4 linked regions of the Homo sapiens genome follow. The protein of the gene in region 1 interacts with the protein of each later gene in a pairwise test. Each region holds a gene or a part of one and is shown on either strand. Other genes may lie near its edges. The genes, in order: OTP, SLC12A7, EOMES and BEX1.

Region 1 (9,143 bases):
AGAAGCGCCACCGGACGCGCTTCACCCCCGCACAGCTCAACGAGTTGGAGAGGAGCTTCGCCAAGACTCACTACCCCGACATCTTTATGCGTGAGGAGCTGGCACTGCGTATCGGGCTGACCGAGTCCCGAGTGCAGGTACGAGGGGCTTGGGATCTGGGACAGAAGGCAAGGACAGGGCGGGAGGATTTGGGCAAAGGGAGCAGGGTCTTCCCTTCCCCTGTCGAGATCCTGGGCTGCTTTCAGGCTGCCTGTGCGTTCCTGTATCGAGTTATCTCCTTCTCTACCCGGAAACTGGTCCCCATCGCCATCCCCCAATGGACACGCAAGGCCCGTCTCCGGCCAGTATAGCGACATCCCGGAAGAAGCTCCTCAAAATCGAAGCCCGGCGTTGTCGGGCTACAGGGTTCGCCTCCTCCGCCTGAGAAGGCAACCTCAGCGCCCCCCCGGGCGGCCCAGCCGAGCGCACACCTCAACTCCTGCTCGCATTATTGACAAATATTACCCCCTAATGAGTTTGTGTTAAGCGTTTGGATAAAAGGAGGAATGCAACAATTATACAGAAAACAAGAGAAAAGAGCAAATAAGGCGAATGAGCGCCTTTTAAAAAAGTGCTACACCCAGGTTTCACGGCGTGGCTTTATTACCTTAAGTATCACCCTCCCTCTGCACTCAGGCGAAATATTCCTAGCTTTGATGTTTGCAAGGGGTTTGAACTTTCGTAGTCTACCAGTGCGCTGGGGGCAGCTGACGAGATTCCCAAAGCCGGTGAGCCCCGTTTTGTTTTGGAGTCCTCTAAGGAAGCTACGGTGGGGGAGGGGAAATGAAGGCTTTCTGTTGTGGATATCATGTCTGAAGAAGGGGCATTCAGAACGGGAAAGGTTGACAGGCAGTAGAGGAAATCATTGCTGACCCCTTATTCTCCTCCAACCACTCTCCAAGCTGTAAATTATATATAACCTAGAAAATCACACCTATAATTATTCTGAAAATTGGTGAATAAAAGTATAAGCCTAGTGAATCCCAGATTTTTGTTTGTTTTTTTTTTTTGTTTTTTAAAAGAAAGAATGAAGACATATCAAATATTTTATGGACAGGTGCCTGGAGGTGAAATTCCAAGCGCCGGTACTCACTCTTGAGCTATCCAGGGTGCTGAAAAATCTTCCTTTGCCGTCTTGGACGGTGGTATTTTCTGTACGATATCCTGGGTGTCATCAACCTGGTCAATTTGTTAAACCAGTGCTACCTACTTTTATAAAATTAACTTTAAGATCTTAGTTACTTTACATTTGATCTAAGAAGTAAGCAATGAGAACGTCCGTAATCACAGCGTTGAATGTTTCTGTCTCCATTCGGCATTTTAAAGATAGTCTAAACTGAAAAGATAGCGCATGCTTCTGCTCTAATAGCAAATGAATATTATTGGGGATTTAAAATGGTCAAATTAATAAAGTAATGTTGATTAACATAATGATTAGCATTTTTATACAATATAAGTCTGGGTGGTTTTCCTAGTGAAAGGCCTAGACCATGGTCTTTTAAAACGACACACCAAAAGAGTACTAATTGTGTAACTGTAAACATGTGTTAGTAATGCTCTTCAAAATTTTTATTTTTCACCTTTTAAAAAATATCTGAAGTTGAGTTTAAACCTTTACATAAATATACAATTTCAATACTTCCATCAACACTGATGACAGTGCTTGCTTGTAGGTTCAATTTTGCAGGTTAGAAATTCATAAATTTTGGGGTTTTGTCCTTTAAGAGAAAGATTATCTATTAATTCTGTATTTAAAGGGTAAAATGCTGTGTCTTAACCTAGATATACTGGCAATTAGTTTAAATTAAAATAGAACTTAGAATCACAAATAAAATATAATTGAACAACTGATTTTATGAAAAAAGAAAACGAGGTCTATTAAACTTTATTAGGTCTTCCAAAGGTTAATGACAGTTATTCTTTTAACAGAAAAAGTTGTAAATGAAATAAAATATAAGCTATGTAACAGAAATAGTTATTTTCAAAAAGTACACAAAAGAATGCACAAGAAGAAAGAGACAAAGTACTCTAATTGTTCCAGCATAATGTTCAAGCAAAGATAATAGCTTGAGCCTGCTGATAGACACAATTTAATAGAATGGCAATTTCAATATTTTTAAAAATAATGTTCCATAGTTTAAAAAGTAATCAGATCAACATAACCTTCTTAATTAACTTTTCAAAATGATTAACATTATGTAATGTAATGCAAAAATAATTTATGGAAAATGTATTTACTTCACAATTCACTGTACCATTGCTCCTTGACCAAATTCAAATTAAATAGTAATTGGCTTATGTTCTTATATGATCAATACTTCATAGTTTTCTTTATAGTTAACAGACTGCCACACATTCTTTTCAGTATGTGGGCCACTGCGCTGATTAAAAATTATCTAAACATTTAATTCATTGCAATTGTATATTTTTAAAGATGCTTTTTGATTCTAGACTAAATTATCCAATATACTTATTTTTTATCTTTATTTGGTATATATCACACTTTTAAGTATTTATTAAAGCATCTCTACTCACATGGAGGCCAATTCCATGTCTGATATAGCTCCTCTTTTCTGGCCAGTGTAATAAAACCATTCCTTTTATAGCATGCCATTATTAGAAACCAATTTCAGAATTATTTATAACCTGGAATGGCTTATTAAGCAGCAATGTGAGAATCATGCAAATTATGTGATCAAATGCAATATAATAAGCATAATCATTAGTCTCTAGCATGGATTAATTAACTTTCAATATTTTATTTACATAAAAACCAAATCAGTAAAATAACTTCTGCACAGTCAGGCTTGCCTTTCAATATTTTATATGAACAAAAATAGTGTGCTGTAATTCCATTGACCGTGTCCCCCAGAATGGCCCTGTCACCTGCCACATCTTAATAGGGGGACAAACTGAGAGTATTTTCTAGTTTTCTAATGGAATGAGAAATTGCATTTTCTTCCTCTCCCAGCACTATTAAACTGTAATGAATTCGGCCCAGAGTTCACGGCTGGCTGATCGAAATGAACCTGAGATCTAGGCTTTAATACAGCTCCCCAGATTTCCTCCAAAATCTTCACATTAATCATTTGCTGGATTCCAATGAGATCTTCATAAAGCATTTGCTTCAAGGGGGGAAAAAGTAATATTCTCTCTTTCTCTCCCTCTTTTTTCTATTTCTCAGTCATTTATAGCTGGGGAATTAAACGGGCTATATATTTTAAAATACATTTACAGTATGTCTATATTACTGTAACAGCAGATATCATGAAAGTGGATTTTTAGATTCCAACCTCCATTAGATTCTCACTGTTGTATTAAGCATTTTCCAAGAAGAGCTGCATTTCAAACTGAGTACAAAGTTGGCCCGTGGCTGGGGTTAATATATTTCCTGGAGTTGTCATCTGTGCATTCTAAAAATCTCCCTTAGGTTTTGCCTGCATTTTAATCCGTCATGCTCTAGTTTTCAAGTGGAAACATTCACATTTAAAAAACATATGCATCGTAGCTTGGAACGGAGGTGCTCAGACCCCACGCAGATTTTTTTTCCCAATCCCAGTAAGCCATGAAACATAAAAAAATTTGTAGCCATCATTTGACTACTAACCCTCAAACATAATTGAGCACGATTTTCCGATTATTTCTATAATATTTAGTTCTTTAACAGCTGTTCTTTTCCGCCTGTGCCTGAGCAGATCCTAGATTCAGAAACCATTCTGGTAGTCACATTTTCTATTGAAATTCTACTGGGCAATCCTCCCCCTCTTTCTTTTTTCTGCTCCTTCCCTCACACTCCCTCTCCTCAAACAAACATTTCGGGATTCACTGGCACTTGCAGGTTGTTAGGAACCGGTCTTGATTTTATAAGACACCTTTCAAAACATAATCCCGGTGCGGCGTGTAAGGTGTGGGAACCGTTTAGTCACAGACACCGTCCCGTCTACCTCCCCCGAGTCCAGCCTTGGGTGGGTGCTGCACAGCGACTTTCGGCCTTAGGTCTTCTCGCTGTGCCTTCCTTTCCTCCTGAGAGATGCTCTCCGCCTAAGACCGCTAACAGCTCAATTGGGTCTCATTGATCCCACTCACCATCTAGAGCCCTGTTGCCTCATTAATCCGTTGTGCCACCAGCTCACGGGCTGCAACTGGGAAGAGACGAGACCTGTTTATCCATCGCCGACACTGGGATACGCAGCAATCTGCAAAATGGGGTAGAAACCACAGGAAGAAAGTGGTAGGCGACGGCGCAGGCACGGTAGAAAGGCGAGGGCCGGCCCCAAGCTGGGGGAGTATTCTAGACTGCAACACCGTTCACACTGGTAAGCGTAGAGTGCGTCTACGCTTGCCTGGGCATGAACACACCGCTGAACATTGCTGGCTCACCGAGACCGAGGGCAGGTATGTCCATACCCCTGATACTTTAGCTTGCAGAGTAAACACTAAATAGGTTAGATTAACGGATGCACAACGTTTTTTTCCACGGATATCGTGGTCAAATTGCGTTGGCCAAATTCTAAGAGGAAACTCAGTACCTGGGCTTGTCCTACATCATTTATATTTAGGCACAGTAAACGCCAGATGACCAGATTTTAAACTGCAAGTCTTCCAGGCAGGCTTGCTGGCAAATTATTATTATTATTATTGTCATTTAAAAAGATCACATTCAAATAGGGGGAGATGGGAGTTATCTTGGATTGGCAGCTTATGTGATATCTTTCAGGCAGAACTCTTCTTCTGTGATAGAGGGTTTGACATGCCTAGGCAAATTTGCCTGACAGGGTCTGTAACTCCCGGGCCACTGTTAAAAAAAAAAAAAATAGGAAGGCTGTTTTCATTTGGAGTGTATTTTATCAAACTCATTTCCCTGAAAAAGGACGTTTGGGTTTGTCTGAGCAAAATTAAATTTGATTCATATATCTCGTAGTGAAATGTGACCTCCTTTAATTCATATTGGTCCGAAAATTTGCTTTTAGTTTATAAATGAAATGGGGGCGACTTGAGGGAACTGGAGGCCTTGTTACTTGGGACCCTTGGTAAGTTCCTGAAAGGAATAGACTTTGGCTTGGCGCGGTGGCTCACGTCTGTAATCCTAGCACTTTGGGAGGCCGAGGCGGGTGGATCACGAGGTCAGGAGTTCAAGACCAGCCTGGCCAACATGGTGAAACCCCGTCTCCACTAAAAGTACAAAAATTATCTGGGCATGGTGGCGCGTTTCTGTAATCCTAGCTACTCGGGAGGCTGAGGCAGGAGAATTGCTTCAGCCGGGACCCGGGAAGCGGAGGTTGCAGTGAGCCGAGATCGTGCCACTGCACTCCAACCTGGGCTACAGAGCAAGACTCCGTCTCAAAAAAAAAAAAAAAAAAAAAAAAAGAATAGGGTTGAAGGCTCTTGGGGCAGCAGGTTCCAGCCACTCGTACAGCCCAGACAAAGGTGTCCATAGAGTGGTTTGGGAATGAGGCACGGAGAGTTGTGGCAGTAGCACGAAGCAATATGGGAGGAATCGGAAGTCATGGTGGTGACCCAAACAACACTGTAGCTCAGTGGCGTTCACTTTCCCACGCAGATCACTGTATTAACCTCTCCGCTCTGTCAACCGTAGCGTTAGGGGTTTTCCTTTGTCTTTCGATTTTGAAACTATGTCATCCACAGCCTGTCATCAATTTCCAAATTTCCAGCGTTTCTGAAAATTCTATAGCACATCAGTGTTATAAGGCATGCTATTAAGCTACATGGGTACACGTTTATCTTCATTTGTACACCTGTGGGTCGAACTTTGACACATGCCTGACTGCAGACCTGTGAATCTGTGCAGTGCACAGAATGTGCAGGGGCGTGGTGAAGACTGCACACATTTGGTGTGTTTGCACAGTGCGTAAACTCTTCGGGGCACGAGCTCTTAGGAGCGCAGGACTCCGCGCTTGGTGGGTGCAGGGGGCGCCAGTTGCCAGGAGTTGGTGGGGAGCCACAGTCTCCGGCTGGGTATGGGGGCTTGTCGGGCCTACGGCACTTGTTCCTCCCAGGGCAGAGCGGCTGTATCCGAGGCGGGTTTCTGGGGCTCAAGCCCCAACTCCCCAGCCGCCGGGCCGGCTAATAGCTCCCTGTCTGTCTCCCGCCCCGCCCGCTCCAGGTCTGGTTCCAGAACCGACGCGCCAAGTGGAAGAAGCGCAAAAAGACGACCAACGTGTTCCGTGCGCCCGGCACACTGCTGCCCACGCCAGGCCTGCCTCAGTTCCCGTCGGCTGCCGCCGCCGCTGCCGCCGCCATGGGCGACAGCCTGTGCTCTTTCCACGCCAACGACACCCGCTGGGCGGCGGCCGCCATGCCTGGCGTGTCACAGCTGCCTCTGCCGCCGGCGCTGGGCAGGCAGCAGGCCATGGCGCAGTCGCTGTCCCAGTGCAGCCTGGCGGCCGGTCCGCCGCCCAACTCCATGGGCCTGTCCAACAGCCTGGCGGGTTCCAACGGCGCGGGGCTGCAGTCGCACCTCTACCAGCCCGCCTTCCCCGGCATGGTGCCCGCCTCCCTCCCCGGCCCCAGCAACGTCTCCGGTTCGCCCCAGCTCTGCAGCTCCCCGGACAGCAGCGACGTGTGGCGGGGCACCAGCATCGCCTCCCTCCGCCGCAAGGCGCTAGAGCACACAGTCTCTATGAGCTTCACTTAATGCAGCCGCGCCCCGGCCCGCTCCGCCCCCAGCACCGCCCCGGGGGCCGCCCCGAGGCCCTTCCGGCGCGCACCCGGACCCCGGCGCCCTGCCCCGTCCCGCCCCGGCCTTCGCCCCGTCTCGTTTCGTCCTCGCCTCTCTCCTCCACTCGCTCGGGCTCACCCCAAGCCCCAGCCCGCGAGGCCTCCCCTCCGCCTGATTTCGATCGCCCGCGGTCCCCCGTCTCCCGGCCGCCCCTCTTCCCTTCCCACCCAGCTGCGCCCTCGGCTCGGTCTCCAGCGCCTCAGCCCACCCTTCCCGCCACCCTGGCCTCCCTGCTTGCGCTGGCCGTGCTCGCGCCCTCCTCCTGGCCTTCTGACGGGCGGCGTTCCCACCCACACCTTCGACGCGACGCCTACGACCCCCCTCGCCCGCCGCCTCCCCTCCGGTCCCCTCTTTCCCCACACTTCGCGACCCTCCTCCCGCGCCCGGCAAAAAGTATCCTTCCCGCCATTTTACGTACCAGGGAGTCGACTCAGGATCTGAAATCAGACACCAATGGACTGGTTTGTGGGCAGAAACACACACACTCGCACTCTCGCTCACGCTCAGACGCTACACACGCGCGCGCACAGACACGGTGCACCTAGGTCACACACGGACGTGTTCAAGGGACAGCACAATGTTAGGGATTTTTGTCTTAAAGGAGGACAAGCATTGCTACCAACCGCCTCATCTGAGGGCCCAACTGATATGATTTGATTTATCCTTGTACTCTCCAAGCTCCTGTCTTTCTTTCCTCTCCCACCACGCTACCCTTGCCCAGTCCACCCAGTCACATCCGTGCAGCCCTCTCTTGGCTTGCAAGATAACGCTTTTATTTTTATTTTATCTTATTTTCATTTTCTTAAGCACAACTGTGTGAGAGTGTAGAAGGGAAGGCTTCTCAGGAGGAACGTGACAGTGGATTGGGTGGCTGGAGTAGACTAAAGCAGTCATGTGACGAGGAAGAGGTGATCTGACCCATTTTGATAAGTCTTTATAAGGAAGAATAAAATAAACGTGTAAGCAAAATTTTCTTTTGTAAAAGCAAAAGCCACATCTCTTTTCTGGATCCTTCAGGACTGGGGTTTGTTTGCTTCCTTTTCTGTTTCTGTCTTCTCGCTGCTCTGTGCCCTTGGTTGTTTTGTGGTGGTCCTGTCGTCCCTCGTGCCCCTCGGCCACCTGCTGGCAGCCGATGGGGGCACTCGGACATCTACAACCCTGCAACTTTGTACAGAGAAACACAATCAGCTCTTTCTGCATGTGCTGGTCAAATCCAAACCCAGAGAACAGAAGCGCTTTCTAAGAATGAACAAATATGTGAAATAGGATGTTTTGTGTAGATAAAGCATTCTTGTTACATACTGGTCAATTTGTGATATGTTTTAACTTAATGTCTGTGTTTATTTATGGAATTCGGTTTTCTTAATAAATGTTTGAGCTAATATAAAGCATATTATTTGACTTTTCCGGACAAGTTTATATCAAGTTAAATGTAAATGGATAAAATAAAATCATTTTCAGTATGTGATATAGAGAATGATGGGTTTTGGTGTGACCTTGAACGGCGGGAGGGGTCTCGTGGGGGGAGGGGAGGGGCCGGTCTTGGGAATGGTTATATTCGCGCCAGTTGGAACGCGTGGGCCCTTCGCCCTGCAGTGGGCTTGGGTTCGGTTTCTGGGCTGCAAGGTGAGGTCTCCGCGACGGGGCGGCATGCTGGGGCGCCGCGAGCGCCTCACGCAAGCTCTGAGCCTCCCGAGGTTTCCGGGCCAACCCAGGTTTCCCAGGTGGGACTCCGAGCGTCGCTGTCGGCACGAAACGCAGGGCGCGAGAGTTCCTCAGATGAACGGTGTCCCTGGGGCAGTGGCGCGGAGGGCGCCCCTCGCGGGCTGCGTGCGCGTGATGGGGAGGCCGTGGGTGGGAGGGGACCACAATTCGCACCCTCGGCCTTCAGAGCCTGGAGTTCTGCTCTCCGGCGCCGCCCCAGCCGTGTCTGGCCCCAGGTACGCGGTGGAAGCTAGGCCGCGGCTCTTGCCTCCTCCGGGGCCTAGGCCTCTTTGGGGCCTTCCCTAAGGCCACGGCGCCCCTTCATGTCCCCAGACCCGGGATCCGCTTCAGATACCCGGGACCTCCCAAGTAAGGGACAAACGCGCTTCTCCAGAAGAGGCGTGTCCGGGACGACCAGCACCTACCAGGGCTCCCCCAACCCCGGGGCTGCTCTGGTTTCCTGTCAGGGTCCCTGCTGGCTGCGTACTAACCTCGACTTCAGGCACGTGCTCAGGGGACTGCCCCAAAGGAGTAGGAAAAAAATGCCGTTTCTTCGGTCGGCCGAGGGGAAGGTTTGCGGTGTGTTTTAAACTTGGAGGCAAATCGATATCACAGGCTTCCTTGGGAAGGCTAACCGAAATCAATCTTGTGGTTTGAAATT
Region 2 (5,323 bases), about 77 Mb from region 1:
ATGGTGGCTCATACCTGTAATCCCAGCACTTTAGGAGGCTGAGGCAGGCAGATCACTTGAGGTCAGTTCGAGACCAGCCTGGCCAACATGGTGAAACCCCATCTCTACTAAAATACAAAAATTAGCTGGGCGTGGTGGTACACGCCTGTGATCCCAGCTATTCGGGAGGCTGAGGCAGGAAAATAGCTTGAACCTGGGAGGCGGAGGTTGCAGTGAGCTGAGGTGACGCCACTGCATTCCAGCCTAGGCAACAGAGACTGTCTCAGAAATACAGAGATTGGGTCACTTCAACACACAGCACTAGGAAGTTTGGGGTAAGGTCATTTCCAAGCCGATGACATGATTTGGAAGCCCTCGTCCAATTCATATGGTCACTCTTCAGCCACCTGAGTTGGCTGTGGCTGGTCAGCCCTGACGCTCCTGCTAGAAAAGGGGCGGCCAGTACATTTTCTCCAGCTGTCTTTCATGCTGAATGAGACTCAAGAGATTCTTCAACGTACTCAGATTTCATAGGATTTTATTTTTCTACTAACACAGACAGACAGGGAAACCTACAAAAGGAAACGGAGTCAATTGTAAATGGCTGTAGTTACTGGTTACACGGAGTTGACAACACAAAGGATGCCTGGTGCTTGCGTGCAGAGGCTGCAGCCCAGGGCGGGGGCAGAGCTGAGCCCTCAGGAGGTGGTTTCGTGTGCAGAACTGAGCGGCCCTCAGAAGCAGGGCTGTTTTCCAGCCACCAACCAACGTTCAGAGCCAGCACCATGTGGCCGCTGTGCCTCTAGCCTGCTCTCCTCCAGGTGCAGGGGACACAGGACCTGCCGGCCCCATCCAGACATGGAGGAGCGTTTTGCTGCTTAACTCATGCTTAGCCAAGGCAGGCAGAGGCTGTGGGAACTGCTGAGCCCCGCTGTGATGTCTGGGACACGCTCTGGGCAGCAGCCGTCACTCTACAGCAATGCCAGCCCTAGTCTGGCTCCTCAGAAACATCTGGGGGCACAAGTGCAGCCTCTGCCCCGATTTGAACTTTGTTGATGGGGCTGATTCCCTTGGGAGACCATGCAAGCCAGACGTAGCCCAAGGCCTGGCCATCTGGGGCCTCTAGTATATAGAAGCAACCTCTTTATGGACAACCTTGTTACCACGTAACTCCCTGGGGTGTTTAAATAAATAAATATGCCACATAGAAAGGGAGGCCCAAGTCGGTGCCACTGCCCGCAGCCTGCAAATGTGACCACAACCTACAAAGCAGAAACTCACAGCCAGCCGAAGTGCAAAGTGTTGGGCCCTTGAAAGCTATCTCTTCAGTGCCACCGCCGCCTCCATGCAAGGCACAGGCCATGGCAGGGGACGCCCGGGACTCAGCCAGACAGACCTGACACCAGGCGCCACTGCTGCCTGAGGACCTCCCACGTCGGGTCCGTGTCCTCCTTCCCTGGAGCACCGGGGTGGGGATGGCACGTGTGAGCCAGCTCAGAGGCTGAACTGTGTGCCGTGCTCCTGGGGTGGGGTGGGGTGGGGAGGGCAGTCCTGGCTGTCGTGGGCTGTCGGGGGAACTCACTGTTCACTCTGCGCGCGTGTGCCCCTGGGTTTCAGTGCATTTGCCTGCGTGAGGCACTGATCGCACCTGTGGCTGTGGGCTGGGCCCTGTCAGTGCTTATGAAAAGAAGTGGCTGGTTTTCTAAAGGTGGATGGAGACTCGGACAGCTGCAAACACAGCCCGGCATGGCAGAGCCACAGCTGGGGGCCCCTTCCCGGAGCGTAGGCCCTGATGAACTGAACGTGTTCACCACACACCCGACAGATGATCCACCACGTTCTGGAAAAGCCGAGTTCCCTTTCCAGATGGCCCTGGCCCACGCCTCAGCTCATGAAATGTGGACCTGCCGAGCCCAGAGGCTCCCACACGAGGGTGACACGGGCATGGACAGAGTCCTCCAGCTTCAGTGCCTTGAGGTACAGAAACACAAAGACAGTCAAGGAACAGAGTGACTCGGAGGTGACCGGGGCCCTGAGCGGAGCCATGGCCAGGGCTGACGTTTCACCTTCATCATCAGGGACAGCTTCAGCTCCGGGTGCTCTTCCAAGAATGTTCTGGATGGGGTAGAAATGCAACCTAACCACTGGGTAAATCCAGCCAAGGAAAAGAACTTCCAGAAACCAAGGCAAGGGCTCACTGGCTTCTTGTGACCTGCGAGAAGATCTGGCCACGTCCAGGTCACTCCGGTAGCAGCGTCTGCCCTCAGATGCAAGGAAATCGTCCAGCCACGCCCTGATTTGCTGAGCCTGTTAAGGCTGAACAGGAGAGCCCTAGGTGACGGGCCTAGAAACTTCCGTAGGAAGCCCCATGGGCAGCTTGGGCGGCATCACTGGGGGACAGGTGTGTCTGCCGTCTGTTTCCCTGGGCCAAGCCCAGGCCCAGGCTGCCCACGCCGTCCTCCGTGCCTGTCCCAGAGTGCCGTGATGCTGTTGGGCATTAGGAGTAGATGGTGATCACCTCCCGGCCGCCACCCCTGACCAGGAGGACTCTGTTCAGCCCCTCGGTCAGGACTTCAAGAAACTCCATGTCTGTGGTCAACAGAGTTAAGGCCACAGCTGATCTTACCTGAGCGTGTGTAGCTGAAATCGTGATAGGAGTGAGGTTTATCCTCTCCTGGTTAGCTAAGATTTGGTTTGAGAAACCCAGAGCCAAGGTGAAAAGAGAGGTGGGGATTAGAGAGACCCCCCAGGCGGGGAGGAGCAGGGCAGGGGAGAGAGGGGCCAGTGCTCGGGAAAGAGAGGGAGCACCGTGGCCACAGGGAGGACGAGCAGAGACAGCGACACAGCCCACGGTGCTGACCCCACCCGACAGGGAACCCCAGCCACGGGACTGGGTCCTCACCAGCCTACAGGGGACCTGGGCCACGGATTCCGATCAGGACGCATGGAGGACATGCCCTCACTGGCCCCAGTTCTTGGTGCCAACCTGGCAGGGATGTGCCAGGCGTCACCCTGTCTGTGCCAATACGCCCAGATGCACTGCGGAGTTCTCCTTCCAAAGCACAAATTCCCAAAGCTGCGACCAATTGTGGCCTTAAAGCCGAGAGCTGGGCTCCTCACCTCCCACCGTTGTCGGCGCAGGGTGGGGCTGAGCCCCAGCGGAGGTCCCAGAATGCACAGCTGCTGTGGGGATGCATGACAGGGAGCCTCCCAGCCCCAGGGCAGCCCTGAGCACCTGGGGACAGTGGGGCTGGTACTGTAGGCGGGCCCTCCCTCCCCCACACCAATGCCAGGGCTGGCCCCAACTCTGGCCCGGTCACCACTGGGCTCAGAGCCCCACTGCATCCCGGTCGTAGCTCCCAGAGCCTGGGGCTGAAGGAGAGGCGGGAAGCCAGCCTCACTCCCAGCACCCACAAACCCAGGTCTTAGCGAGAAGCCACCAGGGGGTGCCCGCACGCTCAGCAGGCACACTGCAAGAAAGGATACAGTTCTCGTCTCCCTGCCGGTTTTTGGGAGGACCTGGCATGTTGAGCAGGACCAGCTGCGCATCCTGGGACTTGTTGAGGACGACGCCATTGAGCTTCACAGCCGTGTGCATCCGCCTGACGTTGGACTGGTCCCTGCAGGGGAGGTGGGCACGGTCAGCGGGCGGCGGGTGCACCCCACGCTCCGGACACGAGGCTGAGCTGAGCCCTGATGAGCTGCATTCACACGTGTTGGAAAGGGCTGTGTGAGTCAGGATCAGGCGGATTCTCTGACCCTGAAGGATGCAGAAGTGGCGGCTCCGAGCGAAAGGCGCTGACTGCAGCCAGGGCGGGCGTTCAGCAGCGGGATGCTTTGGCCTCCAGGGACCTAGAACTCAGCCCACTAAGGCTGCCAAGCTTCTAAGGGCTACAGTCACACAACACAAACCGCAAGCGCTTTCCTAACTACATCTACATCTGCAAAGCAGGCAGAACAGTGGAAGCCGTCTGGGTGGCCCATGTGCCTGACGCCTTCAAGGCTGACACGCTTCTCTTGACATCTACATCATCGCCCCTAAACCCCACGTCAGACACTGCCAAACACAGACCCGTCAGGCTGGGCACACATGGCCTCCTCTCCGAGGGTCCTGATACAACTGGGTCCAAGGGGCCGGAAGCTCAGGAAGGAAAGGCCCAGAGTCCCCCACACCGGCCTGTGCAGCCGTTGCTGCTGAAGCTCCCAGGCCTGACAAGGACAGGGTATGCCGAGGACTCAGCTGGAGGCACAGGCCCTCAGTGGCCACTACTGGGTCCCCTCCTACGGCCCACCCTGCCCCTGTCTGGCCAAGGGCTAAAGGACAAGCACTTCCACCGTGTGGCCGTCCAGCCCCCGCCTTCCGTCCTCACAACGCAGCTCTGCTCCACGACCCTCCCTGTCTGCTCTCTGAAGCTGCTGTGGCCGGTCCATGTCTCAAAGCGTCCCTGGCGGCCTGGGCCCGGCCACAGCCCCACAGGAGGCTCCCCAACCAAGTAGGTTTGGGGACACTGCAGAATCATGCTGTGAGGTGCTCAGGCCCTTGCGGGACAGAGCTTATCTCCCTCCTCTACCCCACGGTCCCCTCCTAGGCAGGCCCCTAAACTGCAGCAGAACTGGCGTTCCAGGAGGCCACCTGGGGAAACGCTGGGCGGAGGGGAGCACTTGCGTTTCTGTGTTGGAAAAACCCGGCCCGTGTGTGGACTTGAAAGTCGGAGCGGGTCTCAGGCCAGCTGCAGCCGTGCGGTCGTGACTGTGGCCCCCTGGGGGAGGTCACCAGCGCCCTGGACGCAGAGGGGCGGCGGCGGACAGACAGAGGCCGCCCATGCAGGGTCATGGAGAGGCCCCACGGACGCTATCCAGGCTCACGCCCTTTGATCCGCTTGACGCTTAAGCCACATAAACGTGATCATAACCACCAATTTCCAGGAGGAACACAGGGAGAGACCTTCTATCTTCTCTCCAGCCTGGTCTAATTACAGATGGGGTCTCTGTCCACAGCACAGTCAAGGGGCTTTCGTGCCAGGAACTTGGAACTTTGAATTCGACTTCTGGATAGACCACAATTACCAGTGTGTTTGGGGACAAAGAGCAGCTCCAGGAAGTGAAAGCAGGCCAGGAGCACAGGGGGGTCGGAGTGGGCAGCGTGTCCACAGCCAGTGAGTGCTGGGGTGAGGCGGAGACCTGGCCCTTGGCTACTGGTGGAGTATGCCGGCCGCCACAGCAAGGAGGACCAGTGCAGACACAGGCACAGACACGCACACTAATGTGTATACGCACACACACATACATGCAGACACACTGATGTGTACACACACAGGCATAGTCACACTAATACACAAGTGCA
Region 3 (9,439 bases), on another chromosome or scaffold:
ATGGAAAAAACACTGGCTGTGGCGGTAGAAAACTCAGATTTTAAAAAGAGCAGGGCCTTGCTATTTCGTGTTGTGAAATTACATCCTCTTAGTTTCAGTTTTTTCTTATGTTAAAAAAAAAAGTGGGGGTGGGGGAGAGTAATAATATCTGCTCTTGGGAGGATAAAAAAATGGATCAAATGAAAAGAAAGGTATATATAAATGCAGATTCTTAAAATTTCAAATCTTCACTCAAATGCTAAAAAAACCTCTTCATTTTTAAGTCCTTAACATTTCTTCAGAAATTAACACAACCTTTCTGAGAAAAATCTAAAGCAAGATTAGTAAAGGAAAAAATTTTGGAAAAAGAAAAATATGTAAAAATCCCAAAGGTAAAAGCTCTTCCTAAAATACATTATCAGCAAAGTGCCTGTTGATGTATGTCCTGCTCAGAGATGATCAGGCAAGTGTGGATAAAAGCTGCACTTACGAATCATAGTTGTCTCTGAAGCCTTTTGCAAAGGGGTTATGATCAATCTTTAGTTGAGTAATCTAGATAGGGGAGAAAAACAGTCATTGAGTGATTTATCATGCTGGACCTTAGCTTTAGAGATTCTTGAGATGTCTGGGACACTCACATCGGTGTTTTGGTAGGCAGTCACTGCAATGAATTGCGTTTCTGAGAAGGTAAAAGTCTGGGTCTTTGAGGGCTCATTCAAGTCCTCCACGCCATCCTCTGTAACTTCAACAATATGCAGTCGGGGTTGGTATTTGTGTAAGGATTGTAAGACTATCATCTGGAAAGAGTACAGAAAAAAATTGCTAAATCTAAAAAGCCTCTTAGTGGTTCAACAAAATTAGATTTTGACAAATTATGTATTTTGGTATTGGACTTCTAAATGCTCCTCACTAACAGCTTTGTTTATTGCAAGTTTAAAGGTCTCATTATTGCCCCCCCCCTTTTTTTTTGAAATTTAAATCATAGCTGGGTATGTGGTTGTGATAGATATGCTTTCCTCTTGGTTTCCTAAATTCCCAAAATACTTCGCTATTTCTGTTCTTAATAGTCAACTCACTGTTATCGAAATCCAATAAGAAAGTGAAGATGAGAAAGGTCAAAAGAACAAAAATGGTTAGAAATAGGCGAGCAAACAGGTCACAAATGCAAATATTATAAATACAGTGAAAAGAGTAGGGACTCTTATTAGAAAAAAGCCTTATAGTCAAAGCCAGAAGATATCCCCTCCTGCTCTGTCACTCTACCTGGGTGTTGTTGTTATTTGCGCCTTTGTTATTGGTGAGTTTTAATTTCCCGAATGAAATCTCCTGTCTCATCCAGTGGGAACCAGTATTAGGAGACTCTGGGTGAACATACATTTTGTTGCCTAAGAGAAAATGAAACAAAACACAAAACCCAAGCATATAGGGCTGTTTACAAATGGAGAAAGCGGAGGGATGTCTCTTAGCTATGAGCAAGATATAAGAGCTAGACTTACAGTTGGTCTCCCAGTAAAAGTTGCTTAAAGAGGCCAGTGGAGACCAGCAGGACTACATCCATATCCCTCCCAGGCCCCTGTGCTTCCAACCTTCCTTGCACTAGGGACTCCCCTGAATGGCATTTCAGAATTTAGAAACGGAGCTAACAAGAGATGACTCTTGAAGGTCAATTTGGGGCCTTCTAAAGCTGTAAGGGCAACATCCGATGGAAGACAGTTGGATATTTATGGGTGAACTAAACTTTGGCTGGGCTTTCTCAAGTGAACATTAGAATCCCAGGAGCCCTTCCCACCTGGAGAGCTTATGACTACTGATTTGTTAAACGTAGGGATTGGGGGGTGGGGTGATGTCTTAGTTAAAGGTTCTAAATATCTACATATTGGCAGACAAGAAATCTGACTTAGCAAACTCTCCTCTCCGTCAAACAAGCAACTCAAAGACACTCATACTAACACCTCTAGGCCTCAGAATGGAAGGGGAAAAAAAAAGTGCTACATTTAAATGTGAGTTGTGTGAGTCGAGGGTTACGATTTCTTCCCGCCCGTTCCTCCCCGGCCCGAGCCTCTTCTCTGCTCACCCTGCATGTTATTGTCGGCTTTGCCACAGGTCACCCATTTGCCCCCCTGGAAGCGCCAGTGGTTGGGGTCCGCCAGCACCACCTCTACGAACACATTGTAGTGGGCAGTGGGATTGAGTCCGTTTATGTTGAAGCTCAAGAAAGGAAACATGCGCCTGTGCAAGGGAATAGAATCAGAAAAATCGATTTTAATTGGGATGTCCTAGAACAGGCCCAGGCCCCAGCGGGTTCCCCAGACACCTGGGATAGGGTCGGAACACATTTAAAAGTTTGCAGTGAACAGAATGCTGGTAGATCAAGTGGTCTGAAACTATGTAAAATATTTTTGAGTTGGCAACTCTTGGAACCTTTCCGTCTTTTCAAAAAAAAAAAAAAAAAAAAAAAAAAAAAAAAAAAAAAAAGCTTGCCCCAACATCGGTATATTCCAAATTCGCGCGTGCTTCCGAAGGCTCATATTCTCGGCCCTTTCAGACGCTCTTAAAATTTTTCTCCTAGAATGTTAAAAACTACTAATTTTTAAATGCACCATTTTGAAAAGTACCAGAGAACAATATTAGGTTATTCTTGTTAAAAATATATATTAAAACTTTAGGCTAAAAGTCCCCTTTGAGTGCCCCTCTCTCAGCACCCACCCCTCCCTTTCCCCAGAAGTAGCCAGTGTTAGCAGTTGGATGTATATCAGAACTTTCTCGCGCACCGAACCCGAGCCAGGTCTGGCTCCAGGGCAGATCTAACCACCTACTCCGACCGAGCTTCCGAGGCCGGCGCTCTAGCCTTCATGCCCACCTCCCGGAGACGCCCCGTGGAGACCCTGGCGCCTAAAACTGCGGGAGCCCATCTACTGCGCTCAGGTGGCCAGCTCTTGAGCCTTCCCTATCCGTGGCTCCTTGCCGGCATGCAGGCATGCACAAGCATACCGCCGAGCAGGAGGATCTAACGAATCCAGCTTGTGGACATGCCCTAATTTCCATTTCCGCCTCCTCCAGGTCTGTTCAGGTGAGGATGATGGGAGGGAAAAGCGGTGTACAGCCGTAACATTGGCACCCTGCAAGAGCCGCCGGGGCACTGACACAGAGGGACACCGCATTGGAGATGCGGTGTCTACGGAGATTTATTGCGCGCGGTGAAACACTCTAAGCACCGCGCGGAACAACTGGGTTCAGCTCCCTCATCCCGGACCTTCCCCAGGACCACACGTCACCCTTTATCCCCGAACCCAGGGGCCCCTCCACGCTGCGCTCACCTGCCCTGTTTCGTAATGATCATCTCAGTTTGGTGGCGGTGGAATTTGAGCCACAGAGGCCGGTTGCACAGGTAGACGTGGGCACGGAAGCCAGAACCTGGAACCCCCAGGCCCCCCAGTCCTCCGCAAGATCCCGCCGCTGCGGCTCCAGGGTACGGCCCGTAGAGCGGAGCCCCCTGGCTGTACTGATAGGTGCCCGGGCCGCCGCCCCCGCCGCTGCTACCGCCCGCGCCACTGCCCGCACCGGCTCCTGGGCCGAACTGCGCCCTCCCGGGTGGGCACACAGCCGCGGGGAAGCCGCCGGGGGGCAGCATGGAGCCGTAGGGGTAGCGCGCCCCGTTAGGAGCCGGGTACACAGGTCCGTGGGGCGCCCCAGCCGCCGCCTGGTACGGGAAGAGTGAGCAGGGCGCAGCCAGCTCCGACCCCTGAGGACCGGGGGACTGGAGGTAGTACCGCTCGGAGCTCAGGCTGTCCATGGAGTAGCGCGCAGTGGCCGCAGCCGCGGCGGCGGCGGCGGCGGCGGCTGCAGCGGCGGAGGGCAGCTCCTCCTCCCCGCAGGGGGAGCCCTTGCGGCCGTCCGGGGGCCCCGGCTTGGCCACTGCCGCAGCGCTGGCAAATGCGTCCCCGGCGTCGGTGTCACTAAGCATGGCCGCGGGGGCCCCTGCGCTGGCGGCTGCGGGCTCCCCGCTCACCGCCTCGCAGGAGAGACTGCCGGAAAACTTCTTGGACGCTTTGTCTAAGTCCAACTTCTGAGGAGAGGGGGCCGCGCTGGGGAGGTGGCCAGCGCTCCCGCCGCTGCCGCCTCGCGCACTCTCCAGCGGGTAGAAGTGCGCGCCAGGCAGGTTCACTGAGCTCACCAAGAGCTGCTCCCCTAACTGCATGCTTTGCAAAGCGCAGACGGCAGCTGGCTGCTTCCTCTCCTCCGGTGGCCTTATTATAAAGGCAGGATGGGGGAGCCAGCGCCCTCTTCCGAGGGGAAGGTAACTTCCCCTTCCTCCCGCGCCGGGGCTACCCACCTGCCGACTCGCGGGCCGCTACTGCGCGTACTGGCGCGCCCTGAATCCAGCGTCCTTTCCGGAAGGAAAGCGCCGTGAGTTGGAAAGCAGGAGGTGGAAACTAACCCAGAAGCCCTCTCCTTTTCCTTCCTCGTACCTCTTGCTCCTCAGGACCCCCACCCTCCTCCCAGGCTCACACGCTGGAAGAAGGTGACTTAGATCTTTGTCCCCATCCACCCACTAGCCCGCGCCTTTCTGCCCTTTTTCAATTGCCAAAGCATCGGTCAAGTTGACCACTTGGAAACTTATGGGCTGTCACTAGCTGCTTTATATATTTGCGGCCAGGGAGGGGCTTCCCGGCCTCACAGCCCGGAGACCCTCCTATTGGCTGGTGGAGGTGACACTAATTCAATTAGGCATTTACTAATTGGATCAAGTCGCCTGTGACTTTCTTTTCCTTTTTTTTTTTTTTTTTTTTTTTTTTTTTTTGAGACTGCGTCCCGCTGTGATAATCAATCCTGGTGTCTGTAATTTCGCCGGAATTTAGGGGGACAAAGTTTGGGGTCTCCATAGCGGTGTCCACCCTTGGCGCATTAGTCATCTCAGCCCTCCGCTGGAGGAATGAGATGGCTGGAGCAGATTTTAGAGGCCAGAGAGAGAAAGACTCTTCAAGCTGATAGCTTGCAGGGAAGCGCCCGTCCCGGAGGCTGGGGAAACTGGGGCAAGTTGGAGACAGGCCCAAGGAAGTCTCTTTCCTCGTCGGAAGCTGTAACTTCAAAGCACACCTTCCTCTTGTCGAAGGCAAACTCCCTGGCCTTCAACGCACAGAACCACTTTTTGTTTGTTCCCATCCTTTTACCCAGTGGGAAAGGTTTGTAGAGAGGAAACTCGCGCTAAGCTTTTGGGATTCCGGGGACGGCCAGAGCACATTGCCATCCTGGAGGACCTAAGCTCTCAGCTTCTAAATCAGAAGCTTGGACAGGGTACTGGGGACAGGACAAGAGTGAAACTAAGCGAGCTAACACCAACTTCATACTCACGCCAACACAACTGCTTTCGGGGAGACAGTCACTTTTATTCCCCACAATTTAAAATCCTTTCTGCTCAGTTTTCCTGATCCCGGATTCCGTCCCTTCACCACCATCTTCAGTTAGGCCTGACACCAAGAAACAAAGCTTCCCTAACAGCCCCACAGTTAGGATTCCCTGCGCCTCTGCTCTGCGGCAAATACAGAAGGTAGAATAATTAGTGAAATAATCAGTTTGATATTGAATTAAACTCCAGCTGCTTGTTTCTTCGCTGCGTTTCCTCAGATAGATTCAAGAGCGGGGCCGTCATATTTTATCGTTTCATTATTACGGAAGCGGGGGGCACGTTTCGTTGCGGATAAGGAGAAGCCTGAATATTCGCTGTTAATAAGCAATTACAGACGCCGCCAGTAATCGCTCCGGGAGCGCATTTTCCGGCTGAGATGTCGGGACTCTGCTTCCCCAACCGAACGCGATCACACGGGAAACTCTTCGCCCACAACAGATGAGATGGCCAAAGGATTGCTGAGTGCGCACACGCAAGTGTAGAACAGTGCGAAGCTTTCCAACCCAGTTTTCCAACCACAGCAGCACCAACATCGGCATGTCTGGGGTCTCCGAGAACGAGGTCCTTAATGCACTTAGACTCTCCAGGGCATTTATCACGGTTTTTTTTTTCTTTTTTGATGTGTGTGTTCGCGCGCTCGCGCGCTCGCGTGTGTGTGGTGGTGAAACCCAGGAGTGCGCGAAGATTTTCAGGGTCAAGGCACAGCCACAGGGGAGGGGGCAAGTTGAGACTAGTGGGCTGGGGCGGTGGCCTTGTAGGTCCTGGGACAGAGTGGCCAGGAGCAGATCGCCAGAAAGCTGGTACTGAGCGCGTTCTGCCCTGCGCTTCCTGCGTTTTGTGTCATCAGTATAGTTAGTGTTTGGCACGGCTGTTTTGATCACTACATTGTCCATGCCTTCCTCCCCTGCTTTAGTGTTATTTTGACCCAAGGAAGTCTAGAACATTGATTGTTCAAGTAGTATAGCTCTGTGAATACCTCATGACTGTCAACGTGAAGATCCCGTGAGGGGTACGCGAGCTCAAGGAAAGAAAGAGGCCGTGCAGCTTGGGCGGCTTGGACGACGTATCTATCCCTGGGCTAGCGGGTCCTGATTACTATTCGTAGGATCCTCCACATTATCCTTTACCTGAGTTGCAAGATATCTAAGGCAAAAGTAGGGATGAGAAATCTCCCTAATGTGAGACCTAATCTCACGTTATTTGGAGCTAGGGTGGCCAAAGGTACATGACAGTTTTGCGCTTTAACAAAGCAAGAAGCGGGCCTCGGCGTCCCTTCAAAATGCTTTTGACGCAGCCAGGGAAGCGCTTCGCGTGGCAAAGTGCCATCGCAGGCAACAGGCATCGTTCCGACCCACTCTGGCGCGAATAACGCGGGCCAGCTGTCCCCCGAGCCACATCAGAAAGCGTTGATTTTATTCCAGCCCCAGAGCAAGCTTTTGAAAGCGCATGAGTTCAGTATGAGCACCACCTAATTATTAAATATACACACGATGTATATAATTAGAATTTGTATTGATTCTTGGGGACAGGAAATTTTGGTTGATATCTACCCACTTCCCCAGTAAATCTATTATTTTTCCCAAACTTCAACACATTTTACATATGGAGGAGCAAAGACAAATTCAAAGAGAATAAAAATTCAGTTTCTATAAAACTACTCTAGGACCCAGGATTTTTGGAACATGGAAAATATGTACATAATATTATATTACATATTGTATTACATTACATTTGTAAGTATATGTTACAAATTCTCTTTAAAATAATGAAAAGCACTGTTTCAGCTACAGATCTTTTTTTTTCTGGCTGAAGATAAAAAATCTCATTTAATGGTTCCTCTGTGTTAATTAGCTAATCACATTATTATTATTATTATTACATTTAGAATATACTAGTCTAGAATGCCTGGAGAGTTATAGATGAGCAAGTCTGTGATTTCCTGCTTGAAATGGGCTTTCCTTTTGCTGGCTCAATATTATAGCCAGGGGAAGAGACATAAAAAATATTTTCACGTGTCCCAGCCACACTTTAAAATCCAGGCACTCCTTTCCAGAAGTAGGAATAGAAAAGAAAGCCAAAGCAGTGGCTTAAGTGAACATGTCAGGCAGCACCCTCCTTAGACTGGGTGGGCAAATAACAGAGCCTTCCAGCCTGTTTGCTGTTTGATTTCAATTACACCCCAAGCTTCATGAAATCCAAATGAGACATTTATTGAAAGGTGCCTGGTTTTATGTGGCTCAACTGACAGTGTATTGGAATACATTGAACAAAAACATCAACACTGGGGAGGAAACATGGAAACCCCTTGAAACCCCAGACCCAAATACCTGCTGGATTAACTCAAATCTTGTACCTTTCAGCCTGAGATGGAGCAAGCAGGAATCTTTAAAGGCTACCAGGAAGCCAAGGCCAAGTCTGTGTGTGAACACATTAAAGATCTCACGCTCTATTGTTCTGAGGAATAATACCAACTTCATACCACTGTCTTGGTCAAAGTTATTGCCAACTTGACCAGATGACCTCTTTATCTCTTTCTCCCCCTTAAAGGTAACCACTAGCCATGCATTGATCTTTTAAAAGCAAAACTGAGAAGCATTTGGTTGGAACAGGATTATTATATAAGAAATACATTTACACACATATGGGTATGTTACAGAGGTGAGTTATAGATGAGTGCAATGATATAAGGTTTACCTCTCCCCATGTGCCACCCACCCCCCACAACCAAGGGGGCCCATATAAATGTCCCAATAAATACTATTATTTTCACCCCCACTAAAAACGTGTTATCAAAACACTGTCCATGTTATTCAAACACTTTGTAAATTCTGAGCAGACTTGCTGCCGGTTCTCCTTTTAACCCTAGGAAAACATTCCAACATTAACCGGTCACCAGCGCTTCGCCTGGACTCTGGGAAAGCGTCAATGGGTTTTTTGTGGTGAGTTGGTCCTTTTACTATTTATCTATGGCCCTTTCTTTGTTGATGTTACATTTTATTTCACCAACTCAGGTTCACTCTTTGGCCCTTTGTTCTCTGATGGCCAGATCTGCCACCTCTGCTGTGCTTTCCAAAGAGGGAGGGAGCTTTAATCACCGTTAGGTTGTTCATGTTTCATTTTTTTTTAAGCAAATGTCCCGTAAGATAAAACATCTTGGCAAAGACAAGCAGTGTTGATTCTGCTGACAAGAGCAAGATACTCCCACCAAAAGTTTCACTTTTATAAGAATTTTTAGAATTTATATTTCACCATGACACTGAAATACACTGACCACTTGCTTTACAAAAAAACAAAAACAAAACAAAACAAAAAAACCCCAAACCAGAGCTACACATGTGTGACGTGAAGTGTTATATTAAACCCATGGTATTTTTTTCAACAAAAATGACCAATTTAAACTATTATCTTTGCTTTAAGTCTATATATCTACATTGCTAATGCACTTTGTGGTTCACTGTTAAAATATGAGGAGGTGAAGGAATCCTGAAATGGAAGTTAATAAATAAACACACTAATAGTTGCTTATTACAAAAGATAAATTATCTTCTCCTAAAGATTGAATCAAGAGTCTTTGGCAACAGCACAAAATCATGACTTACCTTTTTTATGAAAGTAATTTTTAAACTGCTAATGAATTTCTGTATTTAGCTGCTGTTTTATCATCATCATTATCATCATCTTTTTCTTCTTCCTCATCATGTATATGGGAATATATAATAACAAGAAAAGCCACATTAGGCAAAGAAAGTAAAACACTCTCAAGAAAGTGTATTTTGGGAACGTTTGGCTAATTGTTGCTACACTATATACGAAAGTTATACGGGGCTCCATCTATCTTGCTCATTTTTCTACCCTGAAAAGCCTGGAGCACAGTAGGTGCTTATCAATTAAATGAAAAGATTTACTAAACCTGTGTGCTGGAACAGCTAACAGAGGTCAGGGACAGTGTCAGGTCTTAGGCTTTATAACCACAAGGACTAAAGTTTTTTCCTAAGAGAAAAAGAAAACAAAGATCTTTCTAAATTAAAAGACATGATATTTTCATCTTTTTCA
Region 4 (8,367 bases), on another chromosome or scaffold:
GCAGATTAGCATAGTTTTAGAAACACTGTGACATTACTAAATGAACCCAGTGTTCCTTTAGGAATGGCAAGTAATCTAAGTTACACATCCAAAGTTATTTACTTGTTTAGAAACTGAACCGAGACAAAAACTCAGAGCTCCTGACTCAGTCATTATTAATTTTACTTCGGTTAAGTGCCTGCCTCGTCATGAAGAAACCACAGCATGACCAACAGACATTTTATTCCTGAGAATAGGAACTATGCTGGACTAGTGAGACCTACCTTTGAGCACTCTGCTAAACATCTGAAGGGAAAATCTGAGGATGAGAGTCTTGCATAATAGGTGTGGATGGGAGAAAAAACAGGTAAACACAGGTCTCACACAAATGACCTCATTCCAGTCATGTGAAGGAAATGCCACCCCCAACTTATACAAATTCCTGAGTTTATTTACCTGGCTAAGAGATCCAAATTTGATTAGCAAGTATTTTTTTTTTCTTTTTTTAAGAAAACTTTTAGGTTCCAGGGTACATGTGAAGGTTTGTTACATAGGTGAACTTGTGTCATGGGCTGGGGGCAGGTGGGGGGGTGGTTGTTGCACAGATTATTTCATTACCCAGGTATTAAGCCCAGCACCCAATAGTTATCTTTTAGGTTCCTCTTCCCCCTCCCACTCTCCACCCCTACAGATCCCAGTGTGTGTTGTTCCCTTTTTTGTGTTCATGAGTTTTCATTTAGCTCCCACTTATAAATGAGAATATGCAGTATTTGGTTTTCTGTTCCTGCATTAGTTTGCTAAGGATAATAGCCTCCAGCTCTATCCATATTCCCACAACAGACATGATTTCTTTATTTTTATGGCTGCATAATATTCCATGATGTATATGTATATTTACTTTATCCAGTCTCTCACTGATGGACATTTATGTTGATTCCATGTCTTTGCTTTTGTGAGTAGTGCTGATCAGCAAGTATTTATTAAGTGACTCTACTGCCTTCAAAGGTTATTTAAAAATGTTTCCAATTTTTCTTAAATTACAGAAAATATAAAAAATACATTAACCCATCTCATAGAATGAGTCCCTATATTAATCCTTTGGTATATTTAATTTCAGTACTTTTCTTTTCATGTATTAAGTACAATCAATATAAATTTTTAACAAAAAAAGAATATAGAGATTGCTTTTTAAAGGTGCTTTATTAACTTCACTATAATGAGCATCTTTCCATGCAATAGGTAAAATTCTTCTGCTAACAAAAATCTTACAGACTGGTTCAAAAACACAATATTCAATTAGAAGCTGGTAATAGGAGACCCACGTAAACAAGTGACAGGTAAAGGTTTACAACAAGGGCACATCATGAACATGTAAATTCGAAAGCAGGGGTCTGTTTCCGTAATAACTTTAGGGAAACCATCAGGATTCAGGGCATAAGGCAAAACTCATCATGATGGTCATGGTGAGGGGGGTCAGTGCTGACTGCCCGCAGACTATGACTCAACTGCTTTTCCCTCAGCTTTTCCATCAGCTGTCTCACCTCCTCCCCAATCCTTTCCATATTCTCTTCTCTCATCCTTGCCTGTGGTTCTCCAAGCCTATGCATCATATCCCATCTATACTGCAGGATGGGCTGCCTAACGCGGAACCGCCTACGATTTCCTCTAGGCACACAGTATTCACCAGCATCCAAAGGGAGGGCCAAGGGCTCCCCTTTATTAGCAACTTGCTCCTTTTCTTCATTTTCTTGGTTGGCATTTTCCATGCTGAGACTGTTTACTGCTCGTTTCTCTTTGGACTCCATTACTCCTAGGAGACAAAAGGAGAGAGAAGGGGCTGAACAGCTGGTGAACGCTTCAGTACCGAGGACAGAGGCACGGCTACTCATTTTTCAGGATTCCGCGTCATGGCTATCAACATGTTTTGTTTTGTTTAATTTCACGTTTCCCACCAGAGAGGTTTCGTGCGCCCACTAGGGGGCCCCCATTCGAGCCCGCCCCCCCCCCCACCTCTCGTGTCTTCCCCTACCTGCCCCCAAACCCACCATTTTCCCTACAGATCCATCCCTAGATCTCGGCAGGCACCAAAATGGAGGACGGGAGATGGGGGAGTTGGGAGGGGACCTCAGACTGGACTCTGCACCCGCCCCCACCACCGTCCCTCGCACTGACCTGGGCCTATCCTTGTAGTCTCCTCCTTCTCCCGATTCTCGCCACGAGGTGCGCCGCCGGGACACTTGGCCCCGCAGACCTGCAGAAGGGCTGGGGTGTGGGGAGGGGGGGCTGCTGCAGCGGAACGCTAGCTCCTTCTCCGCCTAGGGCCCTCCTCACTGCCAGCGCCCCGCGTCTCCCGCCCCCCGCTCCCACCCTCGGCCGCCTCGCCCCCCGTGGTGTTCACCGTTTTCCTGCAAGGACTCGGGAATGGTTTTCCATCGCTCTTGGTTGCTCTGCTGCCCCTGGAGCCCCAGCCGCCACTGCTTCCCCACCCCAGGGGACCACTATGTTCCCAAGAATGTTGGGGTGTGGAGAAAGCTGGCGGGGATCCCCTGCGCTGTTCTGCGCTCGTCGGGGGGGTCGGTGAGCCTCTGCTGGCCTAGCCAGGGCGCGCGGGCCCCGGGGCCCTTACCTGGTCCGCTTTCCCCCGGGCCGGATGCCAGCCCGCCGAGCGCAGGGCAGCGGGGAGCTGGTAGCGAGACACGAGTGACGACTGCACCGAAGGCTGCGTAGCTCTGCAGCTCCCGGTCACGTGAGGGCCGTGCGTCACCGCCAAGCTCACCCTCCTTCTCACCAACCCCCACGGGCCGGCGGCCAGTTAACTGGTACTCCCCCCTTTGGAACACACAGACACCCCCCTCCTCCCGTCTGTGCGCGGTGCCCCAGTGCGCACAGCCCCGTCACTCATCTCCGTCCTCTCCAATCTGAGGGCCCACAAGTGGCATCATCGCTTTGCGGTTGGAGTTTACCCATCTTCGGTTATTTGGGAGGGTCTGTACCCTTCCTTTCCCCCACCCCAAACCCCCTTCCTCTGGCCTTGGCCTTTTCTTCTTTCCTCTTCTCACTGGCTGTGTATATGCTTCCTAATAATTTCTCTTTATTTCCTTTTTAAAAATCAGCATCCCTCAAAAAATTGAAAATAATCAAATTTTATTTTTGAAAGAAACACTTCAACCTGGGAAAGTAATATATATATATAGTTTATGTTCATCTATAGCACACAGAAAACATTTTCTCTAGGCTCCACACCATCATTTTTAGAGCATTCTCACTTGTTTGAAAATTTTATGAAAAAAAGGAGAGAAAATTTTCCTGAACACAGTTGGTGTTTTCAAAATAATCTGTGAAGTAAATCTTCAGGAAACAGTTCTGTTGTCAGATCTTGGCCATTTTATGTAAATAATCTACGTTTTTATCCTTCTGGGACAAATTTCAAGTTTTATTAATAAACATTTCTATTTTATTCTATTATAATAAACATTCATTAAATATGAAAAAACATTTGCTGACAACTAATGCCACCTGCTAAAATTAGTGGCTATCACTGTTGATGGTTTGAAGACTTAAGCAAAAGGAAGAGCTGTGAGGCCAAGGCAGGTTGAGTGACGCAGAGATAGAGTATCCCTGCCCTGACAAGAGGTTGGGAAGGTGCTGGTCTTCCACTGTTATATTCGAGAGCTTCTTAATTCCTATGTTCAGACTCCTAATTCTGTTGCTTACTCCAAAAATATAGATGGACAGGTGACCAAGGTGGTGACCTTAATATATCACTTTGGCTCCTTCCTTCTATTTCTTCCCCAAATTCCCACCTAATGACTCACTTCTCAGCATAGTTGGGAGGTCTCTTCCCATTCTGGAAACCAGAATAGGGCTTTTCTACAGCTCTGTGGTGAGAGATTCCAAGAAAAGCCTAGAAGTAATTGAGGAGGTGGGAGGAGTGGGGAGCAGTTCTCAAACCTGCCTGCTCTCTTCTCTTTTTCACCCACCCCGGGGAAAAGTCTCTTTGGGACATTTTTGCTATCTCTCACCTGGCTTTTGTAGTGCAGCATACCGAGACCCTCACCCTGACTGTCTCACCTCCAGGTCACCCAGAAGAGCTTAGTCTTGCTGCAGGGTCACTATCTGCCAGTCCATACCCACTCTGATACCTCTTCATTTATGCTAGGGCCTGGGGAACACTCTCCACTGACCATTCTTACTACACTTGGCTTTCTCAACTCAGAAGCCTGTGGAAGCCCTTAATACTACTATTTCTTCTTTTTCTTCTTCTTCTTTCTTCCTTCTTCCTTCTTCTCTCTTCTCTCTTCTTCTTCTTCTTCTTCTTTTTCTTCTTTTCTTCCTCTGTCTCTCTCCCTCTCTCTCTCGGTCTCTCTCTCTCTCATCACTTCTTCTCACCTTAGACATGTTTATTTTCCTTTGTTTTCTACCTTAGTACTCACCCCTTGACCAACCCAGAAATGTGGCTATTATCCTTGAATCACTCTACATTGTCCCTCATATTCAAATAATAACCAAATCTGGTTAAGTCTCAATTTATATATGTGTGTGTGTGTGTGTGTGTGTGTGTGTGTGTGTGTGTGTGTGTGTATATATATATTTTTTTTTTAGATGGAGACTCACTGTGTCAGCCAGGCTGGAGTGCAGTGGCGTGATCTTGGTTCACTACAACCTCTGCCTCCCAGGTTCAAGGGATATTCCTTCCTCAGCCTCCAGAGTAGCTGGGACTACAGATGCACACCACCATGCCCAGCTAATTTTTATTTTTATTTTTAGTAGAGACGGGATTTCAGCCATATTAGCCCCGCTTGTCTCAAACTCCTGACTTTAGGTGATCCGCCAACCTCGGCCTCTTGAGTGCTGGGATTACAGGCGTGAGCTACCGCACCTGGCCTCAATTTATATCTTTTAAAAACAACTTTATGGAGATACAATTTGCAATCCATAAGATTGCCCATTTAAAGTGTAAAATTCAATGGTTTTTAGCATATTCATAGATACATGCAACCATCACCACAGTCAACTTCAGGATATTTTCGTCACCTCAAAAAGCGACCTCCTATTCTTTTGCTATCACTCTCCTATTCCCCCATCCTCTTCATACCAAAGCAACTACTAATACGTTTTCTGTCTATAGATTTCCCTATTTTGACATTTCATATGAATGAAATTGTATAATATGTATTCTTTGGAAATTGGATTTTTTATTTAGCATGATGTTTTCAAGCTTTATGATTCCAATATGATTACTCATTTGAGGAATTGCCAAACTATGTTCCAAAGTGGCTGAATATTTTACATTCCTACCAGTAGCATATGACGGTTTTGATTTCTCCACATTCTTGTCAACATTTGTTATTATCTGAAATTTTGATTCCAACCATTTTAGTGGGGGTGAAGTGGTATATCATGGTGGTTTTGATTTGCATATCCTTGATGACTAATAATGTGGTGCATCTTTTCATGTGCTTATAGGTCATTTGTATATCCTCCTTGGATCAATGTCTATTCAGATCTTTGTGCACTTTTTATTTGAGTTATTTTTCTTTTTATTATTGAGTTGCAAGAGTTTTTATATATTCTAGACAGAAATCCCTCACTACATATATGATCTGCAGATATTTTAGCCCATTCTGTGGGTTTTTTAATCAGTTTCATAATGGTGCCTTTTGAAACACAATGGTGTTTGGCCAGGCACGGTGGCTCATGCCTGTAATTCCAGCAATTTGGGAGGCCAAGGCAGGCGAATCACTTGAAGTCAGGAGTTTGAGACCAGCCTGGCCAGCATGGTGAAACCCCATCTCTACTAAAAATACAAAAAATTAACCAGGCGTGGCAGCACCTGCCTGTAGTCCCAGCTACTCTGGAGGCTGAGGCAGGAGAATCGCTTGAACTTGGGAGGTGGAGGTTGCAGTGAGCCGAGATTGTGCCACTGCACTCCAGCCTGAGCCACAGAGCGAGACTCTGTCTCAAAAGAACAAAAAAAGGAAACACAATAATTTTTAATTTTGATGAAGTCTAGATTACCTTTTTCTTTGCTGCTCCTGGTATTGGTGTCATATCTAAGAATCTTTTGAATTCAAGAGTCATTTGAATCTAAGAATCCTTTGTAATCCAAGGTCACAAATATTTATCCCTATATTTTCCTCCAAGAGTTTTATACTTCTAGCTCTTCCATTTAGGTCTTTGACCCAGTTTGAATTAGTTTTTTATAAGGCGGGAGGTAAGAGTGTAACTTCATTCTTTTATATGTGGCTATGCAGTTGGCCAAGCACCATTTGTTGAAAAGACTATATTTCTCCACTGAATTGTCTTGGAACCCTTGTCAAAATTCATTTGAGATTAGCCACATAGTTTTACTTTTGGACTCTCAAAACAATTCCATTGGCCGGGCGTGGTGGCTCACACCTGTAATCCCAACACTTTGGGAGGCCAAGCGGGGCAGATCACTTGAGGTCAGGAGTTTGAGACCAGCCTGGGCAACATGGCAAAACCCTGTTCCTAATAAAAAAATAGAAAAATTAGCCGGGAGTAGTGGCGAGTGCCTGTAGTCCTAGCTACTCAGGAGGCTGAGGCAGTAGAATCACTTGAACCCAGGAGGTGGAGGTTGCAGTGAGCTGAGATTGTGCCACTGTACCCCAGCCCAGGTGACAGAATGAGACTCCGTCTCAAAAAAATAAATAAATAAAATAAAAGCGAGAAATTATTAAGTGTAGTGAGGAAGGCATGTCGAAAGCCAAAATAAAAGCTAGAAATTATTAAGTGTAGTGAGGAAGGCATGTCAAAAGCCAAAATAGGGACAGGTGTGGTGGCTCACGCCTGTAATTCCAGCACTTTGGGAGGCCGACGTAGGCAGATCACAAGGTCAGGAGTTTGAGACTAGCCTTGCCAACATGGTGAAACCCCGCCTCTACTAAAAATACAAACATTAGCCAGGCGTGGTGGTGTGTGCCTATAATCCTAGCTACTCGGGAGGCTGAGGCAGGAGAATTGCTTGAACCCGGGAGGTGGAGGTTGCAGTGAGCCGGGACAGTGCCAGTGCACTCTAGCCTGGGCAAAAAAAAGGCAAAACATCCTTATTGCTAATATGGAGAAAGTTTTAGTGGTCTGAATAATAGATCAAACCAGCCACAACACTCCCTTAAGCCAAAGCCTAATGCAGAGCAAGGCGTTAACTCTCTTCAGTTGTGTGAAGGTTGAGAGAGGTGAAGAAGGTGCAGAAGAAAAGTTTGAATCTAGCAGAGGCTGGTTCACGAAGTTTGAGAGAAGACATTATCTCCATAATGTAACAGCACAAGGTAAAACAGCAAGTGCTGATATAGAAGCTACAGCAAGTTACCCAGAAGATTTAGCAAAGATAATTGGTGAAGGTGGCTACGCTAAATGACAAATGTTCAGTGTAGATGAAACAACCTTCCACTGGAAGAAGATGCTATCTAATACTTTCATAGCTAGTGCTATCTAATACTTTCATAGCTAGTGAGAAGTCAATGCATGACTTCAAAGCTTTAAAGAACAGACTCACTCTCCTTTGTTAGGGGCTTATGCAGCTGGTGACCTTAAGTTGAAGCCAATGCTCATTGAAGATTCTGAATATCCTAGGGTCCTAAAGAATTTTGCTAAATCTACTCTACTTGTGCTCTAGAAATGGAACAACCAACCAAGCCTGGATGACAGCATATATGTTTACAGCATGGTTTATTGAATATTTTAAATTAACTACTGAGAACCATTGCTCAGTAAAAAAGATTCCTTTCAAAATATTACTGCTTATTGACAATGTACCTAGCTACTGAAGAGCTCTGATGAAGATGTGCGAAGTGATCAACGTTGTTTTCGTGCCTGCAAATACAGCATCCATTTTTCAGCCCACGGATCAAGAAGTAATTTCGACTTTCAAGGTTTATTATTTAAGAAATACATTTCATAAGACAATAGCTGCCATAGATAGTGATTCCTCTGATGGATTAAGGCAAAGTAAATTGACAATCTTCTGGAAGGGATTCATCATTCTAAATGCTATTAAGAACATTTCTGAATCATGGGAGGAGATCAAAATATCAACATTAACAGGAGTTTGGAAGAAGTTGATTCCAATTATCATGGATTACTTTGAAGGTTTCAAGATTTCAGTAGAGGAAGTCACTGCGGATATGGTGGAAATAGCAAGAGAACTAGAATTAGAAGTAGAGCCTGGGCCGGGCACAGTGGCTTACACCTGTAATCCCAGCACTTCGGGAGGCTGAGGCGGGCAGATCACGAGGTCAGGAGTTTGAGACCAGAATGACCAAGATGGTGAAACCAAGTCTCTACTAAAAATACAAAAATTAGCCAGGCATGGTGGCGCGTGCCTGTAATCCCAGCTATCCAGGAGGCTGAGGCAGGAGAATCACTTGA

Evidence for each region.
Region 2: the proteins of OTP (region 1) and SLC12A7 interact in binary tests that used the Homo sapiens proteins (3 or more experiments, as listed by UniProt).
Region 3: the proteins of OTP (region 1) and EOMES interact in binary tests that used the Homo sapiens proteins (3 or more experiments, as listed by UniProt).
Region 4: the proteins of OTP (region 1) and BEX1 interact in binary tests that used the Homo sapiens proteins (3 or more experiments, as listed by UniProt).

The regions. Positions count from the first base shown.
Region 1 is NC_000005.10:77,627,815-77,636,957, reverse strand, and holds the end of OTP (homeobox protein orthopedia), read left to right. Parts: coding exon 1-137; intron 138-2,497; exon of another isoform or gene 2,498-4,235; intron 4,236-6,163; coding exon 6,164-6,694; 3' UTR 6,695-8,246; downstream 8,247-9,143. UniProt on the Homo sapiens protein: Probably involved in the differentiation of hypothalamic neuroendocrine cells.
Region 2 is NC_000005.10:1,049,884-1,055,206, forward strand, and holds the end of SLC12A7 (solute carrier family 12 member 7), read right to left. Parts: intron 3,600-5,323; coding exon 3,466-3,599; intron 2,569-3,465; coding exon 2,477-2,568; 3' UTR 501-2,476; downstream 1-500. UniProt on the Homo sapiens protein: Mediates electroneutral potassium-chloride cotransport when activated by cell swelling. May mediate K(+) uptake into Deiters' cells in the cochlea and contribute to K(+) recycling in the inner ear.
Region 3 is NC_000003.12:27,718,118-27,727,556, forward strand, and holds the start of EOMES (eomesodermin homolog), read right to left. Parts: upstream 4,207-9,439; 5' UTR 4,178-4,206; coding exon 3,297-4,177; intron 2,209-3,296; coding exon 2,054-2,208; intron 1,365-2,053; coding exon 1,243-1,364; intron 777-1,242; coding exon 618-776; intron 532-617; coding exon 470-531; intron 1-469. UniProt on the Homo sapiens protein: Functions as a transcriptional activator playing a crucial role during development. Functions in trophoblast differentiation and later in gastrulation, regulating both mesoderm delamination and endoderm specification.
Region 4 is NC_000023.11:103,061,491-103,069,857, forward strand, and holds BEX1 (protein BEX1), read right to left. Parts: upstream 2,682-8,367; 5' UTR 2,606-2,681; intron 2,242-2,605; 5' UTR 2,152-2,241; intron 1,790-2,151; 5' UTR 1,785-1,789; coding exon 1,407-1,784; 3' UTR 1,161-1,406; downstream 1-1,160.